2 linked regions of the Homo sapiens genome follow. The protein of the gene in region 2 purifies or fractionates together with the protein of the main gene of each other region. This does not show direct contact. Each region holds a gene or a part of one and is shown on either strand. Other genes may lie near its edges.

The links.
Region 1: the proteins of RPS6KA2 (region 2) and GRSF1 purify together in Homo sapiens (affinity purification with mass spectrometry; 2 studies listed by BioGRID and IntAct, with this or other methods). This does not show direct contact.

The regions. Positions count from the first base shown.
Region 1 is NC_000004.12:70,836,621-70,845,181, forward strand, and holds the start of GRSF1 (G-rich sequence factor 1), read right to left. Parts: upstream 3,271-8,561; 5' UTR 3,208-3,270; coding exon 2,851-3,207; intron 2,642-2,850; exon of another isoform or gene 2,560-2,641; coding exon of another isoform or gene 2,557-2,559; intron 2,526-2,556; exon of another isoform or gene 2,372-2,525; intron 1-2,371. UniProt on the Homo sapiens protein: Regulator of post-transcriptional mitochondrial gene expression, required for assembly of the mitochondrial ribosome and for recruitment of mRNA and lncRNA. Binds RNAs containing the 14 base G-rich element.
Region 2 is NC_000006.12:166,624,252-166,633,388, forward strand, and holds the start of RPS6KA2 (ribosomal protein S6 kinase alpha-2), read right to left. Parts: upstream 3,001-9,137; 5' UTR 2,769-3,000; coding exon 2,670-2,768; intron 1-2,669. UniProt on the Homo sapiens protein: Serine/threonine-protein kinase that acts downstream of ERK (MAPK1/ERK2 and MAPK3/ERK1) signaling and mediates mitogenic and stress-induced activation of transcription factors, regulates translation, and mediates cellular proliferation, survival, and differentiation.

The sequences.
Region 1 (8,561 bases), on a different chromosome or scaffold from region 2:
TTGACAAATATTTGATTGCCCCTACACACAGTGTTTGCCGCCCTCATCTGAAATAGCTATCTAGAATACGATAAGCATACAAGATGAGATACTGAGTGCTATAATTAAGATACAAAATACTACAGGAATTCAAATCAGAGCACTAACAGATGAATCAGGATGTGACATGAGATGGGCCTTGAAGGAAGGATAGAATTTTTATGAGGATATAAAAGATAGGGTATTCCAGTTTGAAGGCGAGAGAAAGAAGCAGTACGACCAAATGCCCATTTGAATAACAGCAATTAATTCCAACTGTTTAAATTAGGAGCCAAAGAAGGTGACCTGGCAAAAGAGGTTGGTACCATAGAGCAGAGGGCCTTGAGTGTGGAGCTCAATGTGTGTCCTTCACTTGGTAGGCAAAGATAAGTTAATACAAGACACTGAGGACTGGGTAAATCAACAAGACAGCAGGACGCCTTGGGAATATTCCTCTGTCAGCTGGTATGCCAGACCAAGTGATTAAGGGAAAGATCTTAAAGACAACGGCAGCAGTGTGAGGCTACAGACTTGTAAAGTCTCTTTTATCGGATTAAGTAAAACTGGAATTTAGTAAGAATCCACGAAGCACTACAACCATAACCTAAGAAGACAACTCAGGCTTTAAGACTTGCACTCTACTGGGCCAGGTGCGGTGGCTCACGCCTGTAATCCCAGCACCTTGGGAGGCCGAGGTGGGCGAATCACGAGGTCAGGAGTTCAAGACCAGCCTGGCCAACATGGCAAAACCCCATCTCTACTAAAAATACAAAAAATGAGCCGGGTGTGGTGGCGTGTGCCCGTAATCCCAGCTACTCGGGAGGCTGAGGCAGGATAATCGCCTGAACCCGGGAGGTAGAGGTTTCAGTGAGCTGAGATCTCGGCATTTCACTCCAGCATGGGCAACAGAGCAAGACTCCGTCTCAAAAAAAAAAAAAAAAAAAGACTTGCACTCTACCGGACTAAGGACAGAGATATCTTTCTACTATCTGTCATTTTCTTTTCTTTTCTTTTTTCTTGAGACGGAGTTTCGCTCTTGTCGCCCAGACTAGAGTATAATGGCACAATCTCGGCTCACTGCAACCTCCCCGGGTTCAAAGGATTCTCCTGCCTCAGCCTCCCGGGTAGCTGGGATTACAGGCGCCCGCCACCCCGCCCGGCTAATTTTTTTGCATTTTTTTAGTAGACACGGAGTTTCACCATGTTGGTTAGCCTGCTATCGAACTCCTGACCTCAGGTGATCCACCCGCCGCAGCCTCCCAAAGTGCCGCGCCCAGCCCTATCTATAATTTTCATTAAGGCTTAATGTTAGGCCGGGCGCGGTGGCTCACGCCTGTAATCCCAGCACTTTGGGAGGCAGAGGCGGGCGGATCACGAGGTCAGGAGATCGAGACCACGGTGAAACCCCGTCTCTACTAAAAATACAAAAAATTAGCTGGGCGCAGTGGCGGGCGCCTGTAGTCCCAGCTACTCGGGAGGCTGAAGCAGGAGAATGGCGTGAACCCGGAAGGCGGAGCTTGCAGTGAGCCGAGATCATTCCACTGCACTCCAGCCTGGGCGACAGAGCGAGACTCGGTCTCCAAAAAAAAAAAAAAAAAAAGGCTTAATGTTTAGTTTTAAGGAATAAATGTAAGCAGTGTCTAACACATAGTAGATGCTCTACAGATATCACCGCAGTCAATTTCATAGAAAAAAAAAGAGAGAAGCTAGCTCACAAAGGTTTACTGGAGATGGTTTTGTTGTGGTTTTTGTAGACAACTTTCCCCATTTTTCCATAATTCCATAAGCATCACAAGCTTTTACAGAAAAAGGCAGCGTAAAGTATTGGGCCAGGATTCAAATCAATTAGCTCAGCCACTGGCAGACAGCAGCCATGCTGATTAGCCTCCCAGTCTCCCTAAGTTAAAGGAGAAGCACAAATTGAATTAAGATAAATATGACCTAAGGAATCAGGGGCTGGGTAGTTAAAAAGTGTGCAGACACTTCCCAGATGCCACGTACCAAGAAGAGAAAGGTTCATCTACAAAGCACAAAATATTTGCAATCTAACTACACACCGACTTTTCTAAAAAAATAAAGAAAAAATGGAAAGGAAAACATTGCAAATTCATTCCTGGGACCCCAAGTTGTGTCCTCAACCCTCAACGCTCCCTCCCATTCACCCCCTCCCCCCAACAGCTAAATCTCCAAACTGCTTTCCCAGACGAGGCGACACACAGTCCTTAAAGACCTTCTGTATGAGTGGAGTTGCAGAGGTGACCTTCAGTAAACCGGGACAGCTCGTCTTTCCCTGGGGACAGGAGAGGGAACGGCGCGATGGGGACAGGCTCCTTCCCTACAAGCCAGCCCACGCAACTGTGTGCGCGCACCTTCCCAGCAGCGGCCGACCGAGAGGCGCCGAGGGCCGCCCAGGCCTAGCGCTCGGGCTGCACGGAAACTCCCAACCCTCCGGCGGGCTCGGGCCTCGCAACTTCACAACCAGCCGGCGGAAAGCAAGAAGATGCGAGGTGGGGGCGTCAGCAGCCTCACGAAACCTACCATGGGCCAGGCGGGGAACAAGGCCTCAACATTCACCCCAGCCACACTTACACTGCCCAACCGACCAGAGACTCGAGGCGAGAACAAAACAAGCAGAAGACCCGACGCCTGGGAGAGCTTCCCTTGTTCCAGGGCCCAATAGGAGCACAGGGTGGACGGGGGCGGGTGTGCGGCGAGTGTCGCGGATCCCCGGGCGTGCCCGCGAGGCGCACACGGAGGGACGGAGGGGCGCGGGGGCGCGTGCACGCGGCCCGGGAGGGATCTCGCGCCAGGTCCCTCACGGCGCCCACGTACCTGGCTGTAGCTGCGCGTCGGGACGGCGGCCGCCGCCGCCAGCGACTGCGGCAGCAGAGAGGCACGGAGGGCAGAGTAGGACGCGGCGGCCGCGGCCGCGGCAGAGGTGGCCACAGCGGGAGGCCCCGCCAGCCTCCCGGGAGGCACAGGCCCGGTCTGGAGGCCACGCGTCTGGGAGGCAGCGGCCGCGGCGGCCCCGAGCAGCAGCAGCAGGCGGCGGCGGCCCGAGACGCCCGACGGGATAGAGCCAGCGGCGGAGTAGAAGGGCAGGCAGGCGGCGCCGGTGCGCCGGCAGCTGCTGCAGTTACAGCCGCAGCCCCGGAGCAGCGCCCCGAGTACCCAGCGCGTGCCGGCCATGGACTCCGGAGGCGGCGCAGGGCCTGAAGGCAGCTGCTCCAGCAGCGATGGTGGAACGGAAGTGGAATCCAGGGCCGGTTGGGGGTGGGGTGTGCCTGGCACATGCGCCGCGGGCACTGGGTGGGGGGCCTCCGAGAGTCGGAAGGAGGTGGAGGAGAGCGCGACGCTCCGCCCAGTCTCCGCCCTTGGGCGGGGCTGCCCATGGTTTGGGCGGGGCTGCCCATGGTTTGGGCGGGGCTGCCCATGGTTTGGGCGGGGCTGCCCATGGTTTGGGCGGGGCTGCCCATGGTTTGGGCGGGGCTGCCCATGGTTTGGGCGGGGCTGCCCATGGTTTGGGCGGGGCTGCCCATGGTTTGGGCGGGGCTGCCCATGGTTTGGGCGGGGCTGCCCATGGTTTGGGCGGGGCTGCCCATGGTTTGGGCGGGGCCCGGGGAAGTGGGTGCAATCGAACTGCTCTTTTTTCAGGCGGTGGAAACTGAGGCCCAAAGTAAGTGAGGCTAGGGGCCTGGCGCAGTGACTCATTCGTAGTGACTCATTCTTGTAATCCTAGCACTTTGGCAGGCAGAGGCGGGTGGACTGCCTGAGGTCAGGAGTTCGAGACCAACCTAGGCAACACGGTGAAATCCCGTCTCTACTAAAATACAAAAAATTAGGTCGGACGCGGTGGCTCCCGCCTGTAATCCCAGCACTTTAGTAGGCCGAGGTAGGGCGGATCACCTGAGGTCAGCAGTTCAAGACCAGCCTGGCCAACATGGTGAAACTGTGTCTCTACTAAAAACACAAAAATTAGCCGGGTGTGGTGACGGGTGCCCGTAATCCCAGCTACTCAGGAGGCTGAGGCAGGAGAATCGCTTGAACCCAGGAGGCGGAGGTTGCAGTGAGCCAAGATCGTGCCACCGCACTGCAGCCTGGGCGACAGAGTGAGACGCCATCTCCAAACAAACAAACAAAAAAATTAGGTTAGGGCCATCCTGCTCTGGGTAGGGCCGAGAGCTGTAGCACAAGTCTGTGCTGCCCTGCGCTGTGCCACCGAAACCCGTGGTGTGAGTGGCTAAAGAACCCTTTCTGAAAGGAATTGTGATACCTTGGTTATAAAAAAATCGTTGGGATAATATCAGAGATTTGGTACCCCCCGAATTTGAGGTATGTGAGGAAGGAGAACTTCGTTGTTTTAAAATGAAATATAGGCCTGGCGTGGTGGCTCATGCCTATAATCCCAGCGCTTTGGGAGGCTGAAGTGAGAGGATCACTGGAGCCCAAGAGTTCCAGACCAGCCTGGGCAACATAGGGAGACCCCGTCTATACAAAAAATAAATAAAGCTGGGTGTGATGGCGTGGGCCTGTAGTCCCAGCTACTTGGGAGGCCGATTGCTTCAGCCCAGAAGGTAGAGGCTGTGGTAAGCTATGATTGCCACCACTGAACTCCAGCCTGGGTGACAGAGTGAAACCCTGTCTCTAAAAAAATAAAAGAAAACATATATATTTATTATGTACTGATAATACATAACAAAGGTGAACCCTCCCCTAATGAAACTGTATTCACAAGTGAACACACAGAGATTTGCACACACATACACAAAGACTGGTTGTGCAGCTTTTCTCCTCCTGAGCCAGGACTTGTCAAAGACAAGCAAAAGGAAGTTGTTAGAGTAAAAAATAAGAGAAAGCTAGTATTTTTAAAAACTCCTTACTGTGGAAAATGTCAAACAGAAGAGCAGAATGAATTTCCAGAACTTCATAAATTGTCAACACTTTTCAGTCTTGTTTCATCTATCCCCTACCACCATCTTCCAGACCTTATTTTCTTTGCTAGAATATTTTAAAGCAATGGGTATTACATTTAAAGTTTGACTTGTTTAACCTGGACTACTTTTAGGTAAGGAAAATTCAGTATTTCTTAGAAAACCCTTTCCCCAACCAAAAAACAAAGAACAAGAAAAAAATTGATAGGCTTGGCTCTATGAACCTGGAGTATCAAAGAAAAAGGGGTTTAGTTTTGTTTTTTGGGCTAAAATACAGTCCGACGGAGAGTATTGTCATTTTTATACAAAAACAGGGACAAAAGAAAAGGCAACAGTGCAAATACTCCATCTTCCAGGAAGGGAGGCTGGGATGCCTCAGTGTTAAAATGACAAAAGAAAACCCCAGAGCAAGAACCATGATCCCTCAGAGGAGTCCCAGAAATGTCCAAGACAGCCTGGCTGGGAGAGGGGGTGTGGGAAGGGCAGGCCCCCAAGAGAGGTCCCCACATCCTCTGGCTAGAGGCTAGGCCCAGGACCCACCAATGCCAGCAGCCCTCACCTCCCTTTGGGGTGAGAGCAGGTGCTGAGGTCAGGCTGGTTTTTGTTTCCCACTGCTTGTTCGTGATTTGTTCTTGGATACCTGGAAAGGGGCCAGTTGAGGCCTCAGGGGTTGAGGCCCCTCTGGAAATGTGGTTCCTGGGAATGGGCCTGGACATAGAAGCCACTGGATGTCTCTTCCCTGAACAGTAATTTTGTTCATCAGTAATCCTGTAACTTCCCAAGGAAAACAAAGAACAGGCTAGTCTTCCCCACCCCAGCCAAAAAAGAGAAGGGGGTTTCTTCATCTGCAAGATTTGGGAATCCTAGAGTTACTTATTTATATAGAGACAGGGTTTTGCTCTTTTGCCCGAGCTGGGGTGCAGTGGTGGGAATATGACTCACACTAGCCTTGACCTCCCGGGTTCAAGTAATCCTCCTGCCTCAGCCTCCCAAAGTGCTTGGGATTACAAGCATGAACCACCACACCTGACCTATTTTTCTTTTCGTAAGCCTCCCTTTCAAGAAGGAAAATGGGTTAGCCCTTCCTAACAGATCATCACTACAAATAACAGGTTGCTGATGTATTGGAGACTCTGCCTATATTTACTCTTGCCCTCATTTTCTTAATAGCAGCAGTCATCATCTATAACATAAAAATCTGAATGGATTGGAAACCTAAATAGACAGAAATCCTGTACTTTATAATCAGGAGTATAAATAATAAGAGGCAGCCTGGGCAACCTGGCGACATCCCGTATCTACTAAAAATACAAAAAATTAGCTGGGCGTGGTGACACCTGCCTGTAGTCCCAAAAGGTCACACGCTCTCTCACAGCACAAACTGACCCTAAAACCGGAGCCCACAAGGTTGAGGCTTCAGTGAGCTGAGACCGCACCACTGCACTCCAGCACTCCAAAGTAGCACCTGCCATCCTCATGACAGAGTGAGACCCTGTCTCAAAAGTAAATAAATAAATAAAATTAAATTATAAGAGGCCATTGGTTTGGACTGAGCTCTTCTACTATGCCCAAAAGACCAAACCAAAATGCAGTTACTCACCTTCCACAAGACCAAGCTGAAACTAAGTTTATTTGACCTTCTGAGTAATCAGGAGAGACAGATAATGGCCAAATCCTCAAACAGACTGGTGTTAGCTGGCAGGATAAGGAAGGCCCCTTTGCTTTGACCTTTATAGGGAAAATACCTGAAACAACCAATCTGCTTTGTATTCTCTGTTTCTACTTTCCTTGGCCCTTTTCTATCTACAAACCCAACCTCCTTTGCTCAGCTCATCAAAACACTCACTCTATAGAATGAGATGTTGCCCGATTCTAGAATAGAAAATAAAAGCCAATTAAGATTTATAAAAGCTGAGGCCGGGCGCAGTGGCTCAAGCCTGTAATCCCAGCACTTTGGGAAGCCGAGGTGGGCGGATCACCTGAAGTCGGGAGTTCGAGACCAGCCTGACCAACATGGAGAACCCCCTCTCTACTAAAAATACAAAATTAGCTGAGCATGGTGCGCATGCCTGTAATCCCAGCTACTCAGGAGGCTGAGGCAGGAGAATTGCTTGAACCCGGGAGGCAGAGGTTGCAGTGAGCCGAGATCGTGCCATTGCACTCCAGCCTGGGCAACAAGAGCGAAACTCTGTCTCAAAAAACAAAAAAAAAAAAATTTCTAAAAGGCGTGTGCGGTGGCTCACGCCTATAATCCCAACACTTTGGAAGGCCGAGGCGGGCAGATCACTTGAGGTCAGGAGTTCAAGACCAGCCTGGCCAATATGGTGAAACCCCATCTCTACTAAAATACAAAAATTAGCTGGGCATGGTGGTGTACACCTGTAATCCCAGCTACTTGGGAGGCTGAGGCAAGAGAATCGCTTGAACCTGGGAGGTGGAGGTTGCAGTGAGCTGAGATCGCGCCACTGCATGCTAGCCTGGGCGACGGAGAGAGACTCTGTCTCAAAAAAAAAAAAAAAAAAGATTTGTAAACTAAATTCATTGTAATTTTGTCTTTTGACAGTTCTGGCAACTGACAAAGGGACCTAAAGGACACTGCTGATGACTTCTGAGACTCCCGGAGGAATATCAGAGAGGTGCCACAGAGCCACAGATGCCTTTTGAGGTCCTCGGTCTTCCTCATGGAGCCTCAAGGGTTATAGGTAAGTTCCGCTCGGGTGGACTCCTTTTTTTTTTTTTGGCTTTTGAATTTAGGATTAGTTTATGCTGTGAGACAGTGCATGACCTTTTGTGGTTTGCAGTGGCTGACAAGTCATTGGCAAGAGCTGCAGTTTTGTCTTGGCTGGGTGCGGTGGCGCATGCCTGTAACCCCAGCACTTTGAGAGGCAGGTGGATTGCTTGAGATCAGCCTGGCCAACATAGCAAAACCCCGTCTACTAAAAATACAAAAATTAGCCAAGTGTGGTGGTGCGCCCCTATAATCCCAGCTACTCGGGAGGCTGAGGCATAGGAATCATTTGTCTCAAACAAACAAAGAAAGAAACAAGCAGAAAACAAAAAGAAAAAACAAACAAAAAGAAGAGACAGGGGTCTGATGCTATTTTCCGGGCTGGAGTGCAGTGGTTATTCACAAGCACAATCACAGGACATTACTGCCTCAAACTACTGGGCTCAAGCGATCCTTCTGCCTTTGCTCTGAGTGCCTGGGATTATAGGATTACAGGTCTGTGCCATTAAGTCTGGTTTAAGAGCTGCAGTTTTTTTTCTTTTTTGGGGGGGGGGGGTTTGTTTGTTTTTTAGTTGTTTACCTTACTCATGGACTCAGGTAACAAGGAGCTGCATTTTAAGACAGTGTTGCTCTAAGTGGTTATTACTGCAGGAGGCATGAACTCTGGCTTTTGGAATCTGCTGGAATTTGAATTCTATCCTTTTTGTTAGGTTTTCTTGCATGCTTAGGTAGGAAAAAAATCACTGGGTAAGTTGGTCAAGGGGATCTCAGAGCCAAAGCCACCATTTAACTAGTGGGCACAGTTCAGGTACTTTAGAGCTATTAAAGTGCTGGCCACTAAAAAATGAGACTACCTGTTAGAATAAACTAGACATGAAACAAGG
Region 2 (9,137 bases):
TCTTTGTATATTTCAAAATATAAATTTCACAGAAACAATTTTAAAATGTTTCCTATTATAAAACAAGTTATCTTTCTCATTCATCCACACAGAGGAAATACACATCTGTGTTCAGTACTTTGTGTCCTATTTCTCAACCTCAATCCATTGACAGACCTCCCCTGCTCAGTTTTACATTTTTTGATGAGTGCTTCTTGGCCTATAACCAGCTGTGAACACACAAACGAACAGGCAGCCTTCTCAAGTATGGGTAGGGCGCAGAAGAGGAACTTACTGGACTGGGGCACAAAGTCAGCTGCTTGTGAGACTCATCACTGGGTGGAAGTGCCCTGAGGCCAGGACTTCTATGTCTCGTGTCTTTTTGGACACAGTATCCAGAAAAAGACCAGCCCAAGACCCGGTCCTCCATAAACACTTGCAGAATGAATTCCTTGGAAAGCTTTTAACAAGACTCTCAAACTCTCAGGGTTTCTTCCCCTTAGCAATAGAATGAGGAAAGTTACATATGCTACCCCGATTTTCACAAGTATCAAATAATAGAAAGCTGGGGAATGCATTTGTAAAAAAGAGAGCATTGTATTAGCATTGACCTTTTTTTTTTTGAGACAAGTCTCGCTCTCTCGCCAGGCTGGAGTGCAGTGGCGCAATCTCGGCTCACTGCAACCTCTGACTCCCTGGTTCAAGCGATTCTCCTGCCTCAGCCTCCTGAGCAGCTGGGATTACAGGCACGCGCCACCATGCCCAGCTAATTTTTGTATATTTAGTAGAGATGGGGTTTCTCCATGTTGGCCAGAATGGTCTCGATCTCCTGACCTCATAATCCGCCCGCCTTAGGCTCCCAAAGGGCTGGCATTACAGGCATGAGCCACTGCGCCCGGCCATTATTGACCATCTTAGTGAGACCTCCAGCACCTAGTACGGGATCTGGCACACAGGAAGCACTAATTGACTACTTGCTCTTAGACTACATGTATTTTCAGCCCATTTGACCTCCTACATCGCTGATGGTTTATGTATGACTTCTAGAAATTTTATTTCTACATGGAAGAAACCTCGTTTCCTATTCCCACCACCCCCCCACCCCCCCCCCCGCTTGTTTCCCACTGTATTCTTTCCGGAGGCACGCCTGCAGCCCAGCCCTCCTTGCAGAACCCTGTGACACCAGAGGCGTGTGTATCCAGAATCAGGCAGATTCCTGAACTCCCACTGGTCAGCCAGTGTCTAGTGCTGCTCTTCATAAACAATGCCTGGAGTGTGCTCACACGTGTACCTCTTCTTGGCAAAGACAGTAAATGGAAGGAGACAAGGAGTTGTCTAATAAACTTGGCATTGAGATGAAACAGGAAACAAAGACATGTATCCGGATAAAGATAAATACTGTTCTGAGTTTCTGATCTTGTCAACTTCAGATTTTTTAAGTGCCTGTGTCCCAGGAAAATGATTTGCCTCACTGGTGTGCTTCATTTCTTTCAATATTAGACTTAAAAGCAAGCCCTCCTCCAGTACTGGATTAACAGTTTTGTTTGAAAGATGTGTTTTACCCTCGGGAACCGGCCATACTGATCCTATCTAGTACTTCCAATTCTGATTTAGGGATGCCATAAGAGAAACTTTTTAAACAAGTAATTCTCTTCTACTTTTTTGTCTATTCCTCAGGTCTCTCAATGGTTACAGAACCCATGTCTGTGTCTAATATCATGGCAGCTGGGACAAAGAAAACCAAGATGAAACATTTGAGATTGTTCCAGCTGAAACAAACCAACCAAAACCCCACAGGTGCCAGCCTTGAGGCAAAGGCGGGACAGTGTCAGGCGAAATCTTTGGGTCCCAGCCTCAGTCTCCCCATCACCATGTCTTTTTCACTTAAACACGTTTCACTGTTTTGTCATCTATAGATTCAACAATGTGATTTGGACACTGGGAATAAGAGAATAAGATTTGATGGTTGAAATAAAACACACCACGAGAGAACCGTCCACAAGGAAACTCTAAGATGCCAAGATGCGGGACAGGTAGAAAGGACAGGGCTTTGGGAGTACTCTGGGTTTTCAGGACGAATCTGTATCAGCCTCGGCGCTGCGAGGATATTGCATCAGGCTCTTTACTCCTGAACGCCGTTTTAGACGCCTAAGCAGATTGTGCTGCTGCCTGTTCTTCCCCGTTCTGTGAATTCTACACTGACTTCAAGTGCACGAATGAGCTACAAGATAAGGTGGAACCTGCCGGCCGGGCACGGCAGACAGCACCTGATCAGCGCCTCGGAGGGCGGAGCTGGGGGGCTTCTCCACTCGGGACTTTGAGGGACCCCCGCGGAGCGCTCCGCGCCACTCGGCGGTCTAGCTGCAGAGAAAGCCCCTCCTCACCCGGGGCTCCCTGTGGCCCACAGGGGACCATCCCACACCCCGTGCAGCCAGCGGCGGAGAAACCAGCTGGAAATGCAGTGGGGGTGGAGTTGCCCCCGCGAGGACCCACGGACCGCCCAATTACTACGGAGTCCCAGCGATAACGTTTGGAGCCGTTTGGTTCGATTTTCGGAACCGGACCAGCTTTCCAGTAACTTGAACTCCCTGACGGGTCTCGGGGTCCACCCAGGGGTGGCGAGGCGGGCTCGGGCGACCACGGCCCGCTCAGTGCCCGGCACCTGCGCGCCCCGAGGGCGGCCGCATTACCTCGAGCCGGCTCAGGCTGGAGCTCTTGGAGCGCGACTTCCTGCGCAGGTACACAGAGAAGAACCTGCGCACGGCGAACTTCTTCATGCTCAGGTCCATCGCCCCGCGCCCAGCCCGGAGCAGCCGCAGGGCCGGGGGACGCGCATCCCCGGCATCCCAGGCGCGGGGCTCAGGTCCGCGGGCGGGCACGCGTGGCCAGGGAGCCCGGCACGGCGGCCATGGGCGCGGGGCGTGGGGCGCGAGCTGCGGTCACAAAGGGCAGGCCGCGCCGGCCACCGCGGCCGGGGCCACAATCGCTCCCTCCGCCTCCTTCTCCGCCTCCCCTGCGAGTACCAGCGCCGGCCACGCGCCACGCCTACACCACGCCCACCACCACTACCACCAATCAGCGCCCGCCGCTCCGCGCCCCGGCACGCACACCTCCTCCTCCTCCGCCCCGCCCCGCCACTACGGCCAATCAGCGCTCACCACCCCTCCCGTTCCCACCCACCACCAGCACTGCCAATGAGAGCCCACCGCCCCGCCCGGGAGAGCCCCGCCTCTGCCGATACCTCCAATCATCAGCGCCGCCCTGTGGTTCCAGGTGCCCATCCCTCCTCCTCTTTCTACTCCTTCCTACAAGAACCAGCTCCGTGCAGCCCCGCCCCCACGCGGTTCCGCCCACGGCCCCGCCCACAGCACTGCCCGCCAATCAGTGCCCGCAGCCGCCGCATACCTAATGAGCCTCGGCCCGGGACAGCTCCCGGCCCGGGCGAGTTGTGCAGCTGCTCCGGAGCCGCGCAGTCGCGGGCGTTCCTGTCACGCAACTTCGGCCCGGCTGCTCTTTCTTCCAGCTTGGGGCCGTCATTATGTTTTCCTTCCTTAAAACATCCCTATGCACACTTTGTCATCATGTTTTTCTCTGCCGAACCAAACTTTAATTGTTGATCAGCAAACGCAGCCAAAACCTCAGCGGCACAGCGAGCGAGGGACCGCCGCCTGCCAGCGGGCCCTGCAGCTCGGCCAGGAGCCGCCCTCCGCGGAACCGGCGCCTTCCCTCCGCCGGAGCGGACAAAGGCGCCCGAGGGCGGGGGCTCAGGCAGCCCTCGGGGCGCCTCCCTCCCGCGGCTGCAGAACAAAGACGCATCCGCCCTCCGCAGCCGGTCCCGCTCTAGGAAACGTCTACACAGATGGCTTATCAGGGCCCGCGCTGGGAATACCCGGGCGGGGTGACCTGGGTCTAGGGCAAGGCCCTCAGACCCGCTGCTGGCGGCAGCGCCGCTCGGGATCCGCCTTAAAGGGAAACACTTTTTTCTTTTTTTTCCTAGAAATGCTCACCAAGGGCTGCAGCAGGGCCGAGAATGCGGGCTCACGACCCCGTGCAGCCTGCTCTGTTTTCCTCTTGTGCACGTGTTGAGTTTGTATTTAAAAACAGGGAGAAACCGAGCCCATTGACATAGCACCATCACCACCTGCAAAGAGCAGAAACGAGTGCGGTGGTGAGTTGACAAGTCTTGCTTGCTCTTTTGCAGTGCGAACTGCAAAATCCTCGCGTTGTTTTGCTCCCTGGACTAGTCAGATGTTGCGTTAATACTTGTGTAGTCTATTTTGGCTAAGGTGGGTAGAGAGGTCAGAATGTCCTTAAATAAGAGCTTTAAAGTCATGCTGCATCCGGGCTGAGGTGAGGTCAGATAGGCTCTCTGGGTTTCCTGGAGACCCGCGTTGAGCGGTGCTGCTCCGGAGTGGAAGCCGGGAGTTTAGCACCACGACTCTGGCGCTGCCCCTTCCTTGCTTGGTGAACTTGGGTGCCGTTGCACGTTGTTCCCACGACTCATCTCTAAGAGGAAAATACGAGTGAAACCTGTCTCACCTCCCTTACTGGATACCAAGAGGCTTATGCAAGATCACGGATGTGGGAGTGCTTTGTGAATTTAAATAGTGCAATTGATTTTCATATTATGTATTAAAGGATCTATAATGACTATTCTTTAAAAACAGAAGTGCAGGACCCCACAAGGACACCAAACACCACTTTTTGCTCCTTTTCAAGATGGTGTGCCAGTTAAGTGCCCATGAAAACTGCTTTGCCTGCTTCCTTTAAGGTTCTGCTGGGAGGGTAGTAATCTGTGCTCTCAGAACCAGCCTCTTAGTGCCCTGTATCCCTGCTGGGACCCTCAGGCATCCTGGCTCTAGGCAAACACAAAGACACTCTGTACCCAGCACGGGAAGAGGTAGATGGACCTCCAACTGGACACAGACTCCGGGAATGAGGGAGGACCAACCCGACCATGCTTCCCTCGGAAGGGGAGCCAGTAATACTGGCCGGAGACAGGAGTGCTGAATGCCACCTATACCAACTCATGGGCATCCTGTTCAGGACAAAAGCCCCAAGGCAGGCAGGCCTAAGTCAAGGCTTGTGTTGTACCAACAATAGTATTTTGACCTGATCTGACAAAATTGGAAAGGAAATATTTCATGGGACATTCATTAGTTCCCCAAATTTGAAGGCAACAAAACTGTTCTGTTGAACTTGGGAGGGAAAATCATTCAGATTTCACTGGAATTCATTGCTAGAACAATAAATCTGTTTGCCTTTGTTTTTCTCCTGGTAAAATACACGTATACCAAAATCTCTAGTGATCATGGAACACTACTTCATGTGATTATGTAATGAAATCCTCCAAAACCACTAAATCTAGGGTAGGTATAATATCAAGACCCACTGTAACCGAAATCCAAATTATCCTTACCAAATACCAGAAAAGAAAGTGAACTTGATAAAGGCTCTTGCCCAGATGATGGAATGGGAGAGGACTGAAGAGAAGATAAAGAGCTTGGTAGACCTCTGAGTATCTCACATTTCCTCTGACTCAAGCACAGTAAGTTTGAGACTGAATTCCGTGGTGACTGCTGCTTCTATGAGTACCAGATTAGCTGATGTGTGGTCAATGCAATTCCACAAGTGATTATCGAGCACTAACATCTGGCACTGTGGTGGTCATTTGTGACACAAAATGATTACAACATCCCAAGAAGTTCACAGTCTTATGGAAGAGAAGGTGAGTGAACAGACAAAGCTCATGCCGTTTTTATGTAAAGTGAAAGAAATGCGTAAGAGATGAATGAGAAGCCAATTCTAATTGGCGAAGTCAAGGAGGAGATGGCCTTTGCTCTGAACCCCTGAGGGTAAGAAGATGAGGGAATAAGTTTCCTGGACAGACAAGAGGAGGCGGGAGTCCCAGGCTGAGGAATAACAGGGCACTGTCAGGCAGCTGTGACAAGGTTTCCCATCTCTCCCTGCTACACAGGCACCTTGTGGGTAAGGCTGGTGTGCTCTCTGCATATGGGAAGATGCCACATTCTCGGGGCACCCCACAGGAGTGGCTTGAGTGACATCCAAGAGCTTCTAATTAGTCAAGTACCACAAATGTCTGTTCGTCTCCAAACAGTCCTACAGGCTGCTGAAAGTTTCAAGCTTCTAAAACTCCCACATATTTTCAATAAAACGCTAAATTGCACTTCAAGTGAAACTATATATCTTTAAAATAAATTGAAACATTCGGTCTTCATTAGGACTAAAGTTTTGCCATGGGAGGTGAATTCACTAGGTTCACCTGATGCAAAACTTCACCAGGATCACCAGGGTCACCTGGTGCTGGCCATCTGCGAAAGCAGGAAGTCGTGCTTTTCCGGAGTATCAGCATTCGAAGGCTCTGCCCATCACAGGCATCCTGCTGGATGCTCCAGAGACAGTGTCCAGCCAGTACGAGGGAGGGAGGTGGGCTTCAGTGTGTGCCCCTGTGAACTACTTCCTGTGGCTGTGATACAAATGGGTTTAGTCAAGCTTCCCTTAGTGTAGTCCCTGAGTGTACAGAAAGGAATCCTTTTCCTGGGCTGTGGATCCCCGTGTACTTGAAATGTTTATGACTTTGAAGTTTCTTGAATGTAGGAATTAGTCCTTGCTCAGGAAGATGGTCTTAAAGTCCTGAGACCCTAGAAGGTAAACTGTAGTGGACAGTTCAGGTGGGGGCACGTTCGGAGCAGGTGTCAGCAAGGGGCCTGGAGCTGTCAGGGAAGGGCTTCTTGGGCCCTCGGCAAAAGTCAGAAGGGATCAAGTTTGCCTCTGGTCTCTGGCTGGCCCCTGGCCCTCACCCACAGGACACTTGGGTCTCATTCACATCTGGGTGCCAACCAAGCCATGTCAGAATGACACCTGTGCCCTCAGTTTAACAGTTTAAAATCTCTGAGCATATCGAAAATTTAAAAAGAAAGTCTTAATGCGTAAAAGTCTTCAAAATGACAGAAATAAAGCTCTAATGGTGAAGTACCAGGAAATGGAATTTACATTTGAAACCAGAGGGCCTGGTTTCTGAGTAGTCAGGAGAGGCAGGTGGAAACCCACAGGCCAGTTGTACTTGACCCTTATTGACTGGCTTACATTTAGGAAGAAAAACCACATTGGGTTTCAAGCTGTGGAAACCATCATGGTTGGCTTCCTCCCTCCCCGCTGGAGCCCTCATCCCCCATCCAACCTGGGTAGGAAGGCACAGGGCTCACAGAAGGTGGGCTTCACCTGCAACACCTCCCCCGCCAGCCCGCTGTGAGGACAGCTTTGGATTTTATTGGTTTTTAAATACTATGTTCCTTCATACCACTTTCTTTTGAAACCCATTTATAAACCATAGGGCCAGAATCTACAGAGAGGCTGATCAAATAACTTTCCTGGTAACACAGATTTTTTTTCGTCCCTCTGCCTGGGGCACTCTGGTGCCTTCCATGGTGTCAGCGGAGCACGGCTGGAGTCATGACTCCCAAACAGCGAGAAGGGAGGGCCCTGCCTCAGTGAGCCCTTTTTCTCTTTGAGACAGTGGAACCCAAGAGATAGATGCGAACACACAGAGCAGTCATAGACACAGCGGAGCAGAGACAGACCAGAGAGAGGCTGCGCGGCAAACGGAGCCCAGACAGGTGGCACCTCAGGGCAGCACCAGTATCAGCTAAGGTGTAAATGCCTCGAAAAGACCTAAATCAAACACCACATGAGAGAGATGAAATTCAGACAGAGAGGCGGTGGGGACAGCGCTCCTCTCCGCACATTTCCAGGATACTAACTCCAGCTGCCATGCGGTGCCTTCAACCTCCAGGACCTGTCTGCCTCATAGCTGAAGCTTTGTACCCTTTGAGCAACATCGCCCTTCCCCACCCCCAGCCCTGGGGAGTTTTTAGACTCCACAGATAAGTGAGATCATGGACATTTGTCTCCCCATGTCTGGCTTATTCCACTTAGTATGATGTCCCCAGGCCCACCTGTGTTGCCCGCAGGTAGCTATGTGAGATGATGGGTGTGTTCATTAGCTTGATTGTGGGAACCCTTACATGAGGTATACCTACAGCAAACACCATGGGGTGTCCCTTAAATTATGCAACTTTTGGCTGCACGGGGTAGCTCACGCCTATAATCCCAGCACTTTGGGAGGCTGAGGTGGGCAGATCACCTGAGATCAGGAGTTCGAGACCAGCCTGACCAACATGGAGAAACCCCTTCTCTACTAAAAATACAAAATTAGCCGGGCATGGTGGCGCATGCCTGTAATCCCAGCTACTCGGGAGGCTAAGGCAGGAGCATCCCTTGAACCTGGGAGGCAGAGTTGCAGTGAGTGGAGATCATACCATTGCACTCCAGCCTGGGCAACAAGAGCGAAACTCCATCTCAAAAAAAAAAAAAAAATTTCTTTGTCAATTATACCTCAACAAAGCTGGAGAAAATAAAAAGAATGAATGAGGAAGGACATACAGAAATCAACAGCAACAACACAGAGGAGAAAGACCAGAAGACAGACACAAAGACCAGGAGACCAAGAAGGAACTTAACCCAAAGGAAAGGAAACTGGGAGCCCGAGCTTAGTGAGGGAGGAGAAAGCAGGGACAGACAGCGCAACTCAGGAACAGGGTCGGGGAGAGGCAGAGGCACACTGAGCGGTGTGGGGAGGCCAGAGGACAACGTGGACTCAACATGGGCGTGAAATACCTCGGGGCCGGGCGCAGGGGCTCATGCCTGCAATCCCAGCATTTCGGGAGGCCGAGATGGGCAGATCACTTGAGCCCAGGAGTTCAAGGCCAACTTGGGCAATATGGCAAAACCCATGTTTTCTCTACTAAAAAATACAAAAATTAGTTGGATGTGGTGGTGTGTGCCTGTGGTCCCAGCTACTTGGGAGGCTGAAGTGGGACGATCACTTGAACCTGGGAGGCGGAGACGGCAGTGAGCTGAGATCGTGCCACTGCACTCCAGCCTGGGTAACAGAGTGAGAGCCCATCTCAAAAACACCAAAAACCAAAAAACAACCTCAGAGGAGATTGCCTAAGTCCACAGAGCAAGAAAGGAAATTGGGGCAGAGTAAAGGGGTGAGTTTCTTCTTCTACCTCTGGCCAGTGTGTAAGGATGGGATGCTCAGAGCTAGCAGTACTTTGGGCCCATGAGGTCATGCT